3 linked regions of the Homo sapiens genome follow. The protein of the gene in region 3 purifies or fractionates together with the protein of the main gene of each other region. This does not show direct contact. Each region holds a gene or a part of one and is shown on either strand. Other genes may lie near its edges. The genes, in order: KLC1, MGA and PRPS2.

Region 1 (3,652 bases), on a different chromosome or scaffold from region 3:
CACTGCAACCTCTGCCTCCTGGGTTCAAGCGATTCTTCTGCCTCAGGCTCCCGAGTAGCTGGGATTACAGGTGCCTGCCACCACACCCAGCTAATTTTTGTATTTTTAGTAGAGACAGGGTCTTGCTATGTTGGTTGATCTTGAACTCCTGACCTCGGGTGATCTACCCGCCTCAGCCTCCCAGAGTGCTGGGATTACAGGCGTGAGCCACCGTGCCCAGCCTTGGTAGCTTATTTTTAAATTGCATTTGCTACAATTCTCCTGCCTCAGCCTCCCGAGTAGCTGGGACTACAGGTGCATGTCGCCAGGCCTGGCTAATTTTTTGTATTTTAGTAGAGATGGGGTTTCACTGTGTTGCCCAGGCTTGTCTTGAACTCCTGAGCTCAGGCAGTCTGCCCGCCTCAGCCTCCCAAAGTGCTAGGATTGCAGGTGTGAGCCACCGCACCTGGCCACTACTTTTTGGAACTCTATTTTGTACTTGCTGACTTTCACAAAAAGTTTGAGGCAGCTTACAATAGGATGTAATAGGATGAAAGAAGAAACAACAATATATTAATACGTGGCCAGAATTAGTGTGCTTCAGAGGTTGTAGAAGCCTTATTAACCTTTCTCACGTTTTTCAGGGGAAAGCCTTGCCAGGCAGTTACTACTACTCAATTGAGAAAGATGTGTGCTAAGTCTCAAAAGCAAGTACTTGTTCTCAGTCACATCAGTAGTGAGTAGCACGCTTAAACTGAGAGTTTCTGGTTCTGGGGTGTTTCTGTTTTACTCCAATCAAGAAAGATTCTTCGTTCCTCCATACTCAACAAAATGGAGGGAGACTGGGTACCAAGTTCAGACACAACAATATATTTACTTTTGTTTGTTGTTTTTTAAAATATTTTTTCAGTATACATGTAGCATATCATCTTCTTACAGCAAGACTGTGCAATAGATCATATACTTGCTTTGTAGATGGGAAGGCTGGGACTGCGTGAGGTCACGTAATGCACCCAAAGCCATGTAGCCATTAACTGGTAGAGCCCAAGCTCAGACACTAGAATTAATTCTGTCTGAAACCAAATGCAAGCTTGGTCCATTGTTCTAGACTGTTGCACTTATTCTGTGCTGGCCAGCTGGCATAGGCAGGACAACACTGTAGTGTGGGGACATTATCTTCCCAGTGGCCTAGATGGGAAGGTTAAGTTCAGAAGCTAGTTGGGTCTGATTCCAGAGTTCACCTTGCCAGTCCATTTATTGGTGGATTTCCTTCCAGTGTTTTTTCCCCATCCATAAGCTTGTGGTTTTTCTTTTTTCTTTTTTTTTTCTTTTGAGACGGAGTCTTGCTCTGTCACCCAGGCTTTAGTGCAGTGGCGCGATCTATGCTCACTGCAAGCTCCGCCTCCCGGGTTCACATCATTCTCCTGCCTTAGCGTCCCCAGCAGCTGGGACAACAGGCGCATGCTGCCATGCCCGGCTATTTTTTTTTGTATTTTTAGTAGAGACAGGGTTTCACTGTGTTAGCAAGGATGGTCTCGATCTTCTGACCTCGTGATCCGCCCGCCTCAGCCTCCCAAAGTGTTGGGATTACAGGCGTGAGCCACCACACCCATCTTTTTATTTATTTATTTTTTGAGACAGTCTCACTCTGTCGCCTAGGCTGGAGTGCAGTGGCACGATCTCTGCTCACTGCAAGCTCCACCTCCCAGGTTCACGCCATTCTCCTGCCTCAGCCTCCCGAGTAGCTGGGACTAAAGCCGCCTGCTACCACACCCGGCTAATTTTTTTGTATTTTTAGTAGCGATGGGGTTTCACCATGTTAGCCAGGATGGTCTCGATCTCCTGACCTCGTGATCTGCCCGCCTCAGCCTCCCAAAGTGCTGAGATTACAGGCATGAGCCACTGCACCCGGCCCTGTGGTTTTTCTTAAATAGTTTAAGCTTAACTTTTATTTCTGTAGTTGAAAATTACATTTAAAAAAGCTGTAGTGAGGCCGGGCACGATGGCTCATGCCTGTAACCCCAGCACTTTGGGAGGCCTAGGCGGGTGGATCATGAGGTCAGGAGTTTGAGACCACCCTGGCCAACATGGTGAAATCCCGTCTCTACTAAAAATACAAAAATTAGCCGGGCGTGGTGACAGATGCCTGTAATCCCAGCTACTCAGGAGGCTGAGGCAGAGAATTGCTTGAACCCGTGAGGCGGAGGTTGCAGTGAGCCAAGATGGCACCACTGCACTCCAACCTGTGCAACAGAGTCAGACTCTGTCTAAAAAAAAAGAAAAGAAAAGAAAAGAAAAGCTGTAGTGATCTACATCTGAAACACTTAATGTGTGTTTTTCCATTTAGGGATCAGAATAAATACAAAGATGCAGCTAACCTACTGAATGATGCCTTGGCTATTCGTGAGAAAACTTTGGGCAAAGATCATCCTGCGGTTTGTATATCCAGTTCTTTCATTCTTTTAATATTTTATTTTCCCCATATATTTCTTTTATCCAACTCATTTTACCATTAAACTCAACAGGGAAAGTTTAAGTGCTGCCTTTTCCCTAGATGGTGCAGGTAGGAGGTCTTCACTTACTCAGTGCTAGTGACAGGCCAGAGCACACTTAATTTGTTTATGACCCCACCTCAAATGGATCACCAACTGTATTGTTTGATTGTAAATCAAATTGCATGTCCTTCTAGAAATTTTTTTCTGAAAATTATATTGTCTTCATTAAAATCTGGTCAGATTTGCATATGAATCTGTTTTGGTTGGCTTTGTGGCTTCCAGGGAAATTTTTAAAAAGTCAGGAATACGTTGTTGATTTGTTTAATTTTAGTATTCTGCAGTGTTACTTTGTATAATCTATACTCTAGTGAATTGCGCTTTTCATTTTAACTGAAGTCATATTGTTCTATCCGACTAAGAATGCTTTACTGTATAGATTGAATATAAATGAATATGTGGTGTATAAATGTACTCTTATTTGGTTATCTTTTACCATTCTTAGTGGTTCTCTCTGTGTTGACAGGTGGCGGCGACTTTGAATAACCTTGCAGTCCTTTATGGTAAAAGAGGGAAGTACAAAGAAGCAGAGCCGTTGTGTAAAAGAGCTCTGGAAATCCGAGAAAAGGTACAAAAGAAGGGGGCAGTCGTTTTCTTTGAGATTTTTGTTTTGTGTGTGTGTGGTTTTTTTTTTTTTTTTGAGATGGAGTCTCGTTCTGTCACCGGGCTGGAGTGCGGTGGCGTGATCTCGGCTCACTGCAACCCCCACCTCCATGGTTCAGGTGATTCTTCTGCCTCGGCCTTCCAAGTAGCTGGGACTACAGGGACACACCACCACGTCCACCTAATTTTTGTATTTGTAGTAGAGATGGGGTTTCACCATGTTGGCCAGGATGTTCTCAATCTCTTGACCTCCTGATCCGCCCGCCTTGGCCTCCCAAAGTGCTGGGATTACAGGCTGAGCCACTGTGCCCGGCGCTGTTTTTTGTGTTTTTAAAAATTTTTCGGTTTTAGGTTTTGAGAAATAACCACTGTGATGTGTTTTTAACTGACTATTAGCTGAAAACAACTCATTTAATTAGAGAATAGCCCACAAAACAAAGCCAGATTGGCCCATACAAATCAGTGTTTAAGACTCAATTACAGGCTGGGTGCAGTGGCTCATGCTTGTAATCCCAGCA
Region 2 (3,652 bases), on a different chromosome or scaffold from region 3:
CTTGAGGCTTAAGATCAGATTCTAAGAGATCAGGAGAAACAGCTACCACTGGTCCTGAGAATAGGGGACCTTTTAGGGTGAGCAATTGCCCTTGCGGAGTCATCACAAGGTTGGCAGAGGTGTGTGGAGTGTTCAAGGGTGAGGTATTTTCTGTAAGAAAGATCAGAAATTAGTTATAGATAAAAGGCATTCAGCTGGGTGTGGTGGCTCATGCCTGTAATCCCAGCACTTTGGGAGGCTGAGGCAGGCAGATCACTTGAGCCCAGGAGTTCAAGACCAGCCTGGGAAACATGGTGAGACCCCATCTCCATCTCTACAAGAAAAATTTTTTTAAATTAGGCGGGTGTGGTGGTGTGCACCTGTGGTCCCAGCTACTAGGAAGGCTGAGGTGGGAGAATTGCTTAAGCCCAGGAGGTCAAGGCTGCAAGCGAGACACTGCACTCCAGCCTGAGCTACAGAGTGAGGCCCTTCTCAAAACAAAACAGCCAAGTGCGGTGGCTGACGCCTGTAATCCCAGCACTTTGGGAAGCCGAGGCAGGTGGATCACGAGGTCAGGAGATCAAGACCATCCTGGCTAACACGGTGAAACCCCATCTCTACTAAAAATACAAAAAATTAGCCAGGCGTGGTGGCGGGCGCCTGTAGTCCCAGCTACACGGCAGGCTGAGGCAGAAGAATGGCGTGAACCTGGGAGGCGGAGCTGGCAGTGAGCCTAGATTGCGCCACCGCACTCTACCCTGGGCAACAGAGCGAGACTCCGTCTCAAAAAAAAAAAAAAAAAAATACCCACACCAGATTTTTTTTGGCTCATACACTGGGCTATCCAAACATTTAAAGAGTAAAAAAGAATATACCATTTTTTTTTTTAATTTTTTTTGAGATGGAGTCTCACTCTGTCACACAGGCTAGAGCACAGTGGTGTGATTTCAGCTCACTGCAGCCTCCGCCACCCGGGTTCAAGTGATTCTCCTGCCTCAGCCTCCCAAGTAGCTGGGACTACAGGTGTGCACCACCACATCCGGCTAATTTTGGTATTTTTAGTAGAGACAGGGTTTCACCATGTTGCCCAAGGCTGGTCTCAAATTCCTGAGTGCAAGCAATCCTCCTGCCTCTGCCTCCCTAAGGGGTGGGATTACAGGCATGAGCCACTGCGCCCAGCCAGATATACCATTCTCTAAGAATATAAGTAACACATAAAATCAATATAACTTTACTTCCAAAATCAAGATGGTAATAAGAAGTTAAGACTAATTTACTTTGGGGTTTTTGTTTTGTTTTGTTTTGTTTTGTTTCAGACAGAGTTTCGTGCTTGTTGCCCAGGCTGGAATGCAATGGTGTGATCTCAGCTCACCACAACTTCCACCTTCCGGGTTAAAGTGATTCTCCTGCCTCAGCCTCCTAAATAGCTGAGATTACAGGCATGAGCCACCACACCTGGCTAATTTTGTATTTTTAGTAGAGACAGGGTTTCTCCATGTTAGTCAGGCTAGTCTCAAACTCCCAACCTCAGGTGATCTGCCCGCCTCAGCCTCCCAAAGTTCTGGGATTACAGGCGTGAGCCACCGCATCCGGCCTACTGTTTCTTAATAGTAATGTATTAATAAGTAAGTGATCTGATGAAAAATAGAGCCTGATGGCCAGGCGCAGTGGCTCACGCCTGTAATCCCAGCACTTTGGGAGGCCGAGGTGGGCGGATCACGAGGTCAGGAGATCGAGACCATCCTGGCTAACACGGTGAAACCCCGTCTCTACTAAAAATACAAAAAAAATTAGCCGGGTGTAGTGGCAGGCGCCTATAGTCCTAGCTACTGGGGAGGCTGAGGCAGGAGAATGGCATGAACCCAGGAGGTGGAGCTTGCAGTGAGCCAAGATCGCGCCACTGCACTCCAGCCCGGGCAACAGAGCAAGACTCTGTCTCAAAAAAAAAAAAAAAAAAAAAAAAAGGAAGAAAGAAAAATAGAGCCTGATTTGACAAAATTAAATTTTACAAAAAATTTCCCATTTATTGGTCTCAGCTAGACCCAACTTCTTAAACCCATCAGTAGAACTGCAGGGAAATCACGAAGTCAAGTATAAGTCTGAAAAGATAAGTTTAAAAAACTACTCATTAAAAATACATGACTATAGACTAATATGCTACCAGGACTGGTAACTTCTCAGGATTTGCATGAGTGTGTATTACAACCAGAAACCAAAATCGAATGTAGTTAATATTCTACTTTTTATACAACCCATCTTTAATTCATTTAATTAAAACTAAAACTGTGGGCTGGGTGTGGTTGCTCACACCTGTAATCCCAGCACTTTGGGAGGCCAAGGCGGGTGGATCACTTGAGGTCAAGAGTTTGAGACTAGCCTGGCCAACAGGGCAAAATCCCATCTCTACTAAAAAATTAAAAAAACAAATTGGGCATGGTGGTGCTCGCTGTAGTCCCAGCTACTCAGGAGGCTGAAGCAGATAATCGCTTGAACCTGGGAGGTGGAGGTTGCAATGAGCTGAGATCACATCACTGCAACTGCAGCCTGGGCGACAGAGCTGTCTCCAAAAAAAAAAAAAAAAAAAAAAAAAAAAAACCACACAAAACTAAAAATGTGGACAAGAGAAGGTGGTCAGTCCACTAAAGTCAACTGATGTATATCTACATTAAGGAAAGCGAAGAATGTCCCTCCTACCTGTGGCCTGGTCTTTTTTTCTGGAAAGAATCAAAGGTTTCCCCCTCCTGTTATTTATAAACATCTGTCCAAGATCTACAGATGATGCAGAAGATCCTTCCTGCTGTTTGCTAATTCTGGGAGATATGTCAAACTCATCTGATCCCATCTTCTTTTTTCTTTTTTGTGCCTCTAGTGCTTGCTGTTTTGCATAAATATACTCTAGCTTCTTCAGGACCACTTCTTCTGTCTTACCTGTAAGTTAACAGAATACATTAGCACTTTCAGCATTACGCCACATAATGAGAAACAGAGTCAACAGAAATCTAGTTGCTTTAACTATATTCCCAAAAACTATGGAAAGTAAGGTGATTACAATTCACAAGAAACAACCCACCACCCAGTCAAAGGATAACTGTGCTGTAAACTGTGGGAGCCAAGCTTTCAATTAAGTATCTGAAAGATCTACTGAGGATTTCTTCTTGATAAAGCTATAATTATGCTCTTTACCAGAGATTATTTACTTATCTCACCTGAAAGAGACGATACTTTCCGTATCAGAATATTCCGTTTTCGAGTCAGGAGATTTTTCTGTCCTATCAATTTGTCTGCCTGATCTGTTAGTCCCTGAATTTCACTGAAGGCCTAGAATACAAATAGTGGTATTATTGAAAATTGATCCACTCTTTCTTTAAACACAGCTAAGGCCTATACAATTTCTCTAATGAAAAAAAACTTAATCTGACATCTTAAGAGAATTTTTAAATTCCATTAACAATTGTTGATGTTTCAGAAATTATTTTTTGTTAAACTGTAAGAGGATTTCTGGCTTACACTTTTAAGGAATGTGACCATGATTATTTCCAAAGAGCATCACTGAATGGTAGTAGGTATTCCACCACTGCGAGGAGATACAAAACACCTGTGCTCTGCTTAGATTTTAATAATCAACTTTAAGATCAACTCCTAGTCTAACCAAAATCTGGTTGAAATAACTGCT
Region 3 (3,652 bases):
TGCATGTGTTTTTACATGAATATACTGTGTGTGTGTGTGTGTGTGTGTGTGTAACAAGGATCATTTGTTACTATTTTGAATGAAATCTTTTTTTAAGCTTTTATTTTCTTTTTTGTGGCTGATATATAGAAATACTGTTGTTTACAACAAAATGCTGAACGCCACCTAGGTCTAATCATGTGTCTATATAATTTCTTGGATTTCTTTGATGTGGGCAGTTGTATTGTCCATAATTTATGATGTGGAAACCAAAGCTATAGAAAAGTTAGGTAATTTTACAAAGAACATAATATCAGTAAATGACACTAAGTATGAAATTAAATAGTAACTATTATCAATCCCCTTACAGTATTCATTCTTTGACCTTGTTTTTTTCCATTTGTAATAGTGTTAGCGTCCAACTGTCAGCTCATGTCCAAATGTCGGCTCATGAATTCCTCTTTAATAGCTGGACTTCTTTTAGCCTCTGGCTGTGTGAGGGTCTCTTGACCTCAGTGATCTCACATGTGCCACTCTGTCCTTCTAGAACACTATTCTCCTCGCCTTTGCTAAACTTGCCTTAAAAGTGATTTCCTCAGAGGGACCGCTAATAATGATCTTGTTTAAACTTTATGCCCTTCCTACTACTATCATCTCTCTCTCTCGGTACCTTTTATTTCTACACACTTACCATGATTTCAGTTACACAGATTGTGACATTACATGTACATATGTTTAACTGTTTGCTTCTTTCATATTTGTTCTCTATACCCAGCGTCAAGCACTTAGTTTTGCAGTAGTATATGTAAATAGTAAATATTTGCTGAATAAGATGGAATGAATATATCTTTTGCTGTCACAACATGTATAATTTTCTTTTTGATGCTTCGTTGATTGCATCTATGATTTATCCTTCTCATGTACGTCTTAGTGGGAGGAATCTAACAGTATCCATCTTTTCCTGTTATAAAATTAATGTTCTTACTTGTAGAGTCGTGCCCCAATTTCTGCAAAACTTGTGGCCAATATGCTGTCGGTGGCTGGGGCGGATCACATCATCACCATGGACCTGCATGCTTCTCAGATACAGGTATCCGTGTTTTCCTTCTGCAAATGGTTAAATCAAGTCTGTTAAATTAAATAATCTTAGGTAACATTACTTGTGTTTGAGTTTATATATGGCTACTCTCTTGGATTTTTGTCTTTACTAAACTTGAAAATATAATTTGATATTAGTACTTCCAGTCTCTATCACCACCTTGCCCCCCAGTCAATTTTGGAGGAGTGGGGATGGCTTTTTGGTAGTAAGCTCTATATAGTTCCATCTCAGCTTATGGAAAATAATTAGAACGGCAGTCATAATGTACACTTTTTAACTTCTTCATAACTTATTTTCTTTGTCTCTAAAACAGGCCAAATTATACTGTGCCACTTTGTGTTATATAATGAACGTGAAGTATTTGATTTATAATAACTACTTAAGAGACAACAAACCTTTTCCCTCACCGTCCTGCATAGCCATTCTATTCCTCAGAATATAGGCCATCATAAGACAATGGAATATGTCCCAAGAGACAGATTGGACTGAAATATGCCCCTATAACATATCTGTCTTTTGATTTAATTCTGTTTAAAATTAACAAAAGGGAGTCTGTTATAAAAGCTTCTTTTGAACAAAAAATGCAAATGTTATTTAATGAAAGCGATTATCGTTTAAAAAAACAAAAGAAAACAAAACAAAACAAAACCCTGCAACATGACACTCACTTCTCCCTTTAGGGATTCTTTGATATTCCTGTGGATAATTTGTATGCGGAGCCCGCAGTCCTGCAGTGGATTCGGGAAAACATTGCCGAGTGGAAGAACTGTATCATTGTTTCACCTGACGCAGGGGGAGCCAAAAGGTATCATGCAGGCTACACCTTGCAGATTTCTCCATCTGCTGATTGGTTTTTCCTTTTCCGATGTATTAGATAAGGAAGCATGCTGTAAATTACTTAAAGCTTTATTTTGCTAATGAGCAAGTAAGTAGACCGCAGGCTTCACTTCCAGAGCAGAAACCCATCATCTTTGTTAATATTTCGTCATTCAGGAAAGAAGAAAATACAGAGACACACATACACAATAGGTATATATTGGTTTATTTGTTTTCAGCAAAGGGTAGATGTGTTTGAGGTTTTTTTAAGTTATCGTTTTCTGATTATAAAAGTAATGAGCCTAATTGGAAAATAAGTCTTTTAATTAACAGCACTTGGAAATGGTAGCCAAAATAGAACAATTTTTTTTTAAAAGAAATCTCTGTACATAGAATACCAAGAAGGAAATATCTGAGACCAAGAAATAAAGCAGAGGCGGAAAGCCATGTCCAGGTGGCTTGGGGGATGGGCATCAGATCCAGCAAGAGCCTGGTGGCTTGGGTTTTAATACTCACCTGGAAACCCCCATAAAGAAGGGAGTTAAAGCCAGGCACGGTGATGTATGCCTGTAATCCTAGCACCTTGGGAAGCCGAGGCGGGAGAATCACTTGAGCCCAGGTGCTCCAGGCTGCAGAGAGCTATGATCACACCACTGCACTCCAGCCTGGGTAACAGAGTGAGACCCTGACTCTAAAAAAAAAAAAAAGAAGAAGAAGAAGAAGAGAAGAGGGCTGAAGGCCAGATTTCTAGCCAAAAGCCAGGGGGAAAGCCCATCTTTACCTCGGCCTTTGGTTTAGGGGAGGAAATAGTCACCTATGAGAAGTCAAACCACGAGCCTGTGCCACATTCAGATGTGGAGTGGAATGCACACGAAAATGTGCTCCAGGCTGCAGAGCCCCTGCAGAGGGAGAATTTCACAATCCTAGCTGCTCGGTGAGTGCTCCCTGCTCAACCTGACCCGATGCCTGATCCAAAGTTAGAAAACCAAGAGAACACAGTCCACGCAGGCCCAGCATGTGCAGACAACAGGGCAGCAGGCAGCCAATACTTGGGGATAAGATAATAATTACTGGACTATCAAATAAGTAAGTTTAAAAGGAAACTGAGGTGAAGGAGAGTTAACAACAACCTGGTCGTAACAGTACGGCAGTGATGAGGCACCCAGTGGTGTGAGAACGTGGTACTAAGTAGCACCTCTGAAGGGCTTCACAGAGATACTCGAGGCGTTAACAAGCAATCAGGGTACAGGGTGTTCAGAATCAAGGATGAGCACAATAAGAGAATGCTGCAAGCTGAGGCTTGGTGACCCAATGACCTTGTAGAGCTTTGCAGATGCTATCTGGGAAGAAAAAAAGCTGGGAAGGGAGTTTTATTGTGTAGGTAGAGACCTCCATAAGGGAGAAGTAGGAGAGACTTCTACCCCCCAGTCCAGTGAGGAAGCAAGGAAGCTCTAAATGTGCACTAATAGAGGAGTGATGAGAGTGACAAGTGATCAGCCTTTGGAATGTCTGACATCAAAAGCCTGTCCCTCATTTGGCACCCTCATCTGCCTGCAGCCCAGCTGAGGACCTAGGATCTAACACAAAAGCTTAGAAGTAGCCCAGAAAGTTGTCTTAACACTCTTGCAGGGAAACACAGGCCCTGATTCTTAGAAGAGCCTTGTTCATTCTGCTCAAAGCTGCCTTCCAACGGCTGCTGGGGTTCCCAGCACAGAAGAGAAGGAACGGACCATGCAGCTGGAGATCGGCCTCTGCCAG

The links.
Region 1: the proteins of PRPS2 (region 3) and KLC1 purify together in Homo sapiens (affinity purification with mass spectrometry; one large-scale study listed by BioGRID and IntAct). This does not show direct contact.
Region 2: the proteins of PRPS2 (region 3) and MGA purify together in Homo sapiens (affinity purification with mass spectrometry; one large-scale study listed by BioGRID and IntAct). This does not show direct contact.

The regions. Positions count from the first base shown.
Region 1 is NC_000014.9:103,667,185-103,670,836, forward strand, and holds part of KLC1 (kinesin light chain 1), read left to right. Parts: intron 1-2,326; coding exon 2,327-2,414; intron 2,415-2,997; coding exon 2,998-3,099; intron 3,100-3,652. UniProt on the Homo sapiens protein: Kinesin is a microtubule-associated force-producing protein that may play a role in organelle transport. The light chain may function in coupling of cargo to the heavy chain or in the modulation of its ATPase activity.
Region 2 is NC_000015.10:41,761,384-41,765,035, reverse strand, and holds part of MGA (MAX gene-associated protein), read right to left. Parts: intron 3,298-3,652; coding exon 3,186-3,297; intron 2,908-3,185; coding exon 2,674-2,907; intron 151-2,673; coding exon 1-150. UniProt on the Homo sapiens protein: Functions as a dual-specificity transcription factor, regulating the expression of both MAX-network and T-box family target genes. Functions as a repressor or an activator.
Region 3 is NC_000023.11:12,808,264-12,811,915, forward strand, and holds part of PRPS2 (ribose-phosphate pyrophosphokinase 2), read left to right. Parts: intron 1-970; coding exon 971-1,069; intron 1,070-1,758; coding exon 1,759-1,883; intron 1,884-3,652. UniProt on the Homo sapiens protein: Catalyzes the synthesis of phosphoribosylpyrophosphate (PRPP) that is essential for nucleotide synthesis.